Homo sapiens: one gene and its partner. The protein of the gene in region 1 interacts with the protein of each later gene in a pairwise test. Each region holds a gene or a part of one and is shown on either strand. Other genes may lie near its edges.

The links. Proteins that work in one complex are often made in the same cells at the same time.
Region 2: the proteins of DDX24 (region 1) and PRF1 interact in a two-hybrid assay, tested with the Homo sapiens proteins (one large-scale study listed by IntAct).

Annotation. Positions count from the first base shown.
Region 1 is NC_000014.9:94,057,203-94,060,702, forward strand, and holds part of DDX24 (ATP-dependent RNA helicase DDX24), read right to left. Parts: intron 3,412-3,500; coding exon 2,896-3,411; intron 696-2,895; coding exon 620-695; intron 1-619. UniProt on the Homo sapiens protein: ATP-dependent RNA helicase that plays a role in various aspects of RNA metabolism including pre-mRNA splicing and is thereby involved in different biological processes such as cell cycle regulation or innate immunity.
Region 2 is NC_000010.11:70,599,942-70,603,952, forward strand, and holds the start of PRF1 (perforin-1 precursor), read right to left. Parts: upstream 2,801-4,011; 5' UTR 2,704-2,800; intron 992-2,703; 5' UTR 962-991; coding exon 423-961; intron 1-422.

The sequences.
Region 1 (3,500 bases):
AGTCTGGCTCCGGTGCCCATACTCCTAACCAAAATTTTATGCTGATATTCACTAGATGCACACACTAATATTACTGCTACTATCAATGGCAGTTAACATGAGTAAGTGCTTGCAATGTGCCAGGTGGCTTCTTAAGCTCTTTATACTTAGTAACTTATTTTACCTCAGTAAGAACCCTAAGAAGCAGGTACTCACTGCCATTTAATACATGAGAAAACTGAGATACAGAGAGATTACATGACTTGTTCAAGGTTACACAGCTGGGATTTGAGCCCAGAGAGATCTAAACTACCACACTCTTCTATTAATACTTCTCTACATCAGGGTAACCAATTACATGCTTAACTTATGCCCATTTCACAGAAAAAACTAAGACTCTAACCTGACAATATCAAGTAGCTTGGAGAGAAGGGCTACTTGACATGAGACAAAGCAAGGTTTTCTGGAGACCAAATCTCAGCAGTGTTGCAAAAGTGGGAGTAGTGGGCACTCGATGCCAGTGGTATTCTCTGATGCAAGAGCCTTGGAACCAACAATTCCTCCTCCCTCCCCCAACCTTTGCCTTAAAAATTCCCCATTCAGTGCAGGCAGATGCCTATAAATTTTCAGATGCCCCTACCTGGTAATGGATGACATGCTGGACTTTAGGAATATCCAGACCCCGAGCTGCCACATCTGTTGCCAAGAGAACACAGCTGGGGTAGAGAGAGAAAGCTTATTAATAATAACTAACAGCTATCTTTAATCAAATTCTTACCAACTGCTGAGCATCCTAAACATTACAGTCCTTACCAATACTCTGTAAGATATCACTTGTATACCCTTTTACAGAAAAACTGAGGCTCGGAGAGATTAACTTCCCAAGCTATCTACATGGCTATTCAGCTGTGGAGTCTGGATCCAAATTTGGGACTCATTGACCCCAACCAACATGCCATACTCTGCAATGATAAAGACTCCCTTCAGTGAGTTAAATGAGGCCATACATATTCTGGGTCAGTGACTCCTCTCCTAGCACCCTCTCATTTACTTCCTCCCAGTGGCACACAGACTTCCTTGCTCTTCCCCAAACAAACCAAGCATGCTCTCACCTCCAAGCCTTTGCACTTGCTACTCCTTAAGGCCTTAAAGGGTCTTGCCTCAGATGTCCATATGACTCACTTCATTACTTTCTTCAGCTCTCTGCTCAATTCTCACTTCATCAGAGACTGACCACACATACCCAATCTCTTTTCTCCAACCCCTGCTCGACTTACTTCTTAGGATCACTTGGCAGACTGTGGGCTTACTTTGCAATTTATTATCTCCCTCTACTAGAATGTAAGCTTCATGAGAGCAAGGACTTTGCATTACTCACTGCTGTTATTACCACCACAGAGAACAACATCTGGTTCATGGTAAGCACTTGATAAATGTGTTGGATGATGTTTCTCAATGTGTGGTTCATGGAAAGTCAAAAGTACTTGAGGTGCTTCAAAACATAAGACTCTGGCCCTTCAGGGTCCTCACTCCCTGCATGTCTGAGCTGAGGCCGGGAAATGCAATGCAAATCCTAGTTTGTAAAACATTAAACTACTGCTCTGGATCAAGGTCAGCAAACTTTTTCTGTAAAGAGCCAGAGAGCATTTCCAGCTTTGTGAACCACACAGTCTCTATGGCAACTATTCAACTCTGCCGCAAAAGAGGATATTGACAATACATAAATGGGTCTTGCTGTGTTCCAGTAAAACGTCTACTAAAAAAACAGGCAGCAGCCAGGTGTGATGGCATGCACTGGTAGTCCTAGCTACTTAGGAGGCTAAGGTGGGATTGCTTGAGCCCGTGAGTTCAAGTCTAACCTGGGCAACATAGCAAGACCCCATCTTAGAAAAAAAAAGGGCAGCAAGCAAGATTTGGCACGAGGCCTATAGTTTGCCAAGCCTTGTTCTAAGCTAATCTCAGTAAACCACTGATACTACTTACCAATTTTTAAAAACCAGTAAATCAAACACTTGTTCTAGAAACTAATTACCCCATGACCTGACAAAACACTGGCAAAAGACACTTTGTAGTCTGCCTCAACTTTCCAGGCCCTCATCTTGACAATCTGCACCCCATTCCCTGAGCATCAGTCTGGTCCAAAGGCAGATGGACAAAGACATCAGGAATAAGAAATAGCATGGGCTCTGAGGTCCGACAGGCTTGTCTGAGGCCCAGCTCTACCACTTCCAGGCAGAGAAACCTTGGGCACACTGATCAGCTTTTCTAGACCTCATTTTTCCATCTATAAATGAGAATAGTGATAATGGTAATAAGTAGTAAAGGGACTAGAAATTATTAAAGCTAACATTTAGCAATATATACATACTATGTGCTAGAGACTGTTCTAAACACTTTACACGCATGAATTTACAATCAATCTTCATAACAACCCTAGAATGGGTTCTATTATTATCCAAATAATGAGAAAATTAAAGTACAGAGAAATTAAATAACTTGACCACCTAAGGAGTGACAGAACTAGGATTTGATTTCAGGCATTCTGGTTCCAGGATCTGTGCTCTTAACCATGAATCTATTCTGCTTCCTCTTAAGGATGTTAGGAGAGTAACTGAATGTGATTCTGAATCTAAAGTGCCAGCACAGGACCTAATCTATTGTCTATACATTCAATATTATGTATTGTCACCTATATTCATTAGTATTGAAGTTTCTGTATGGCATTTAACTGCAACCAAATTCACTAAATGACAGTAACCTTGCCAAATGCTGTGCAAAAAAAAAAAAAGGCTACCTACTACTGAGACAAGGCCCCTATGACAGAAGGTGGCTTTTCTACCATTTCCCCACCATCCTGACCCCTTTTACCCCAGTAACTAACTAGAGGTTAAGCCTCTGGGGACAGTCCTAACTTACTCTTCCAGACGGGCAAACTGCTCCAGGTTTCTGAGCCTCTGCTTCTGGTGCATACAGGCATGCAGGGTCAAGGGCATGATATCAAGGACTTTGAGGAGCCCAGAGAGGCGTTTGATGCAGGAGATACTGTTGGCAAACACTAAGCTGCGGCCTGGATACTGCATCAGGAAGTAGTACAAGTAGAAGTCTTTCTCATCAGTCTCACAATGGATCTTGGTCTCTGTTAGCGTCTCCACCGTGGCCTCATTCCTTGTGAGGTCAATGACCTTGGGCTTGCCCCTCATGCCAATTTTCTGCATAAGGAGGTCAAGTTTGGCTGTTTTATCCATTTTCTTGGTGTGCTTCTTATGAAGGATTCGAGCAGGAGCCTGATGCACCAGGGTGAGTGTGGCAGAAAAAACAAGCGTTTGTCTCTTTGGGTTGTATTGGGAGTCATTGAGCATCTCTAGCAGCTGTGAGAGCTCAGCAAAATGGCCTTTCTCAACCATCCGGTCAGCCTCATCCACTACCAGGCACCTGCAGATCCAGAGAGACCCATATCATTGGTCAGCAGCGGGTTAAGAGGAATCATCTATAGCACACCCTACACTCATCCTAAACACACA
Region 2 (4,011 bases), on another chromosome or scaffold:
ATTGAAGCTCAGAGAGAAGTGAGATGCTCAAGGTCACACAGCGATGAGGAAGGATGACCCGGCCAGGTCTCCTGCCTCTGTCCCTATCCAGGAAGGACTCTGTGGAAGGCTGGCTGTGCCCAGGAAAGGCAGGGTTCAGTACTCACTAGACCTAAATGGCACCCTGCTGGGACTCTCAGGCATGGTCTCACTCACTTTCTCTCTACTTGATGTCTCACTGGGCACTCCCAGATTTGGGACCTCCTGGATGAGAGGAGGCCACAGGGCTGAATCACCTGAAGTCTGAGAGCCAGGATTGCAGTTTCTTCCTGGTGGAAGCAGCCTCCAAGTTTGATTGGAGGACTCTGCCTTTCCAGGGCTCCTAGACCACCCAGAGTTTCCCGCGCCTTTTCCAGCCCCCCACCCCTAGCCCCAGCTCTCACCTGTAGAAGCGGCACTCCACCGTGTCAGTGCTGAAGCTGTACTGGTCCTGGTGGGTCTTCTGGGCTGCAAAGTTGGCTGCCTGTGAGTGTGAGCCGGCCACAGACACATGCACATTGCTGGTGGGCTTAGGAGTCACGTCCAGCCCGACCTTCCAGTCGTTGCGGATGCTACGAGCCGCATCCCGGGCCACAGCTTCAGTGGAGCTGACTTTGGCCCTGGTTACATGGCGCTGGCAGCCAGAGCCCTGGGCCCGCCAGTTGGTGAGCGCCAGAGGCAGGCGCTGGAGGGTGCCCTCCTGTAGGGCATTTTCACAGAGGGTGCAGGTGCCGTCGGGCCGCAGGAACCTTTGTGTGTCCACTGGGAAGGAGCCCGAGCGGCGGAGGCTGGTCACGTCCACACCCTCCCCGGCCAGCCATGCACCAGGCACGAACTTGTGGCTGCGCTTGCACTCTGAGCGTGCGGCTGTGTGGCACGGGGCAGGGACGGGCAGGGGCAGCAGCAGGAGAAGGATGCCCAGGAGGAGCAGACGGGCTGCCATGGAGCTGCAGAGACAGGGGGCACTTGGGCTCTGGGAAGCCATGGGTGGAGGGATGGAGGATGACTGCTCCCTTCCCCCACAGCCACAGATTATCAGGGCACATGGAAGGGGAGGGGCTGAGATATCTCTTAAGTCATTATTCAATGAATGTCAGAGCTGGTATGTCCCTTATAGGCCTGGTTCAGCCCCCACATTGTACAGATGGGCCCAGAGAGGGGAAAAGCCCAGCCAAGGGGAGCCCCTTTTTAGAATTTCCCTAAGGCCTAATGGGGATCTAGGTGGATGGCTCTGTCCCCAGGACACAACTGTGGGTGGTGGGGAGGGGGCTGTGGCCACAGAAGAGGGGACAGAGTAGCTGTAGCAGGTTTAGGGAGGGGTCTGGGGACCTGAGGAAGCCTTCATTCTGAAGAAGTGTCATTTTTGGCCCCAGAACAAGCCACCCTTTGCCCACCCTGACTCTCACTCTGTTTCTTTGTCTCTGTCACTCTCTCTAACCTCTCTCCCTCCCACTGAGCCCTTAACAGAATTGGAAGAGAAATGAGGTCCTATATTGCACCTATTCTTCTCATTTTCCCTTTGGGGCTCTCCCTCTGAGCTTTATGGAATAACATCAGCCCGAATTCTAGAATAAAATCTGCCGACCTGGCCAGGTGTGGTGGCTCACACCTGTAAACCGAACACTGTGGGAGGCAGAGGCAGGTGGATCACTGGAGGTCAGAAGTTCGAGACCAGCCTGGCCAACGTGGTGAAACCCCCTCTTTACTAAAAATACAAAAATTAGCTGGGCATGGTGGCGGGTGCCTGTAATCCCAGCTACTTGGGAGGCTGAGACAGGAGAATCGCTTGAACCCAGGAGGCGGAGGTTGCAGTGAGCCAAGATCGTACCACTGCACTCCCGCCTGGGTGATAGAGTAAGACTCTGCCTCAAAAAAAAAAAAAAAAAGGGGCAGACCTGACCACACCCTTGGATTTTGTGTGGGGAGAGGCCTCGATGGTTGCTCTTCAGATCCTTTCTTGCTGCCCCTCCCCTCTTTGCCACTCCCTGCCAAGCTCTGTGGCCTTCGGCAGTGACAGGGGCCCCCCTATTGCCTACTATGGACAATGATTGTCTGGAAGGTTCTTCCTAATTTTAAGGTGTTTCTGGGGCCTTGCCTGGGCCTGTTTATGATCTGGAACCTCCTTTCTCTAACCTTACCCAAGCCTAACCTTATCCAAGCTGAGCTCTTCAAAGGCCTTTGCCCTTGGGTACCACAGGTTCTGAGACAAGAGGGCTATGGAGAGCCCCCATTATAGCTGGAGCCTCCTGCCCTGCCCAAAGGTGTGACTTGAAGGGTGGAATTTCAGGCAGCGTGGCTCGCCCCAGGGAGGCAAAGAGGCCAGGGGAATCTTCAAAGGCCCTGGGCTCATCCCAGCTAGGAGGCGGGCACAGTCATAACCCTAATCCAGTGAACTCAGCCCTCATCCTGACTCTCATGGTATTCTGTCCCAGGGAGCCTCTTTCCAGCTTTCTTAGAAGCTTTAATGTCAGCACTTGCAGGGCCTTAGAAACTGCACGCTACCTCTTCATTTCATACATGAGGAAACTGAGGCCCAGGGTGGACACAGGGCTGCCCAGCGAGTTAGTGATGGGCACCGTCTGTGACCCAGGTGTCTTGTCTTATAGGTCACAGCACTTCCTGCTCCATCAGCCTCTTCCCCTCCACCCAGGGCCCCAGGCCCCCCAATCCCTGCTCTCTCCTTACCTGGAATCCCGTATAGAGAAGCGGCTACACAGATGGATATCCTCTCTTCACCGAGGCTCCTGGAATGGTGGCATCAGCCCCCCAGGCAGCCCACTGTGGCTCCTTGCACCAGCCACCACTCACATCACTTCTACTTCCTGCCCCGCCCCCAGCTGTGGTCACAGGTCCTTTGTGCTCTCCCCTCCCACAAGCACCCACCCTGTCCTCAGCCCTCATCCGGCTCCCCACTGACAGCCCTCAGGAAGCGAGCAGCAGGGCCAGAGGCTCATCTGCCGAGTAGAGCTGCTGGGGCTCGGGGACTCAGGGCACACAGGCGGAGGAGGGCGGGGCGCTGAGGACTTTGAGACTCGGCCCTGGTGTTGATGAACAGGCCAGCAGGGCCATCTCCTTGCTTCTGATGCACAGCATCGCATGTGTGGGATGTAAGAGGCAAGCAGAGGCGGCGGCTCAGAGCATGGGCCTACACGCCAGACCGCCGGGGCTTGGGCAGCTCGGTTATGCACCAGCAGTGTGGACTGGTAGGGTTCTTCAGCCTCACTGTGCCTCAGTTTCTTCACTGAACAATTGGGATTGTAGGTCATGTAGACCCTAGGGGTTGTTGTGAAGTGCTTGGAACTGTGCCTGGCCCTTCTTGAGTGTCAGAGCCTGTGGCCATTCCCTCCTCCCTGAGTGGGAGAAGAGAGATGTTGCTCTAATCTTGCCATCCACTTCCTGCTCAACCTACATCCCACCCTAGCCCAGGCTCCGAACTCCAAGCATGTTCCTCGAACAGGGGCTCCTGCTCCTCGCTTTGTGAGGACAGCCAGTGGCCTCCACGCTGGCTCCAGCCCTGCTGAGGTCGTGGGTGCTGGTGAGAGTGGTCTGGTAGCACCGGAGGACATGTCTTCTGCACTCTGCCTTGCTTGAGGTCAGGGTGGGGTGAGGTTTCCATGGGTGGAGTGACTCACAGGGCACTGGGGGGCAAAATCACACGGCTTCTGGGGTGGGGGCAGCTGGGTAAGGGAGGAGGTGGTTCTCACAACTTGTTCTCATAACTGTGTATATGATGGGAAGAAGTGGCCGCAGGCTCCAGACCACATGTGACATCATGTCTCATGGGTCACACTTTGGGGCTCATCCCTTGCGTTTATGTCCCTGCTTCCGTCCCTGCTCTTACAGGAACAGGGGCTTATGCTGTCTTCTCGGAATCTGGCCCCATCTTCTCTCCGCAGTGTCCCCACCCTCTTCTAGAAACTGCAGCCTCCTGATCACTTTCCAGCTGTCACCCATGGCCTGACTTGGATGCTGAGGCTGTGAGGAGTTTCTTTC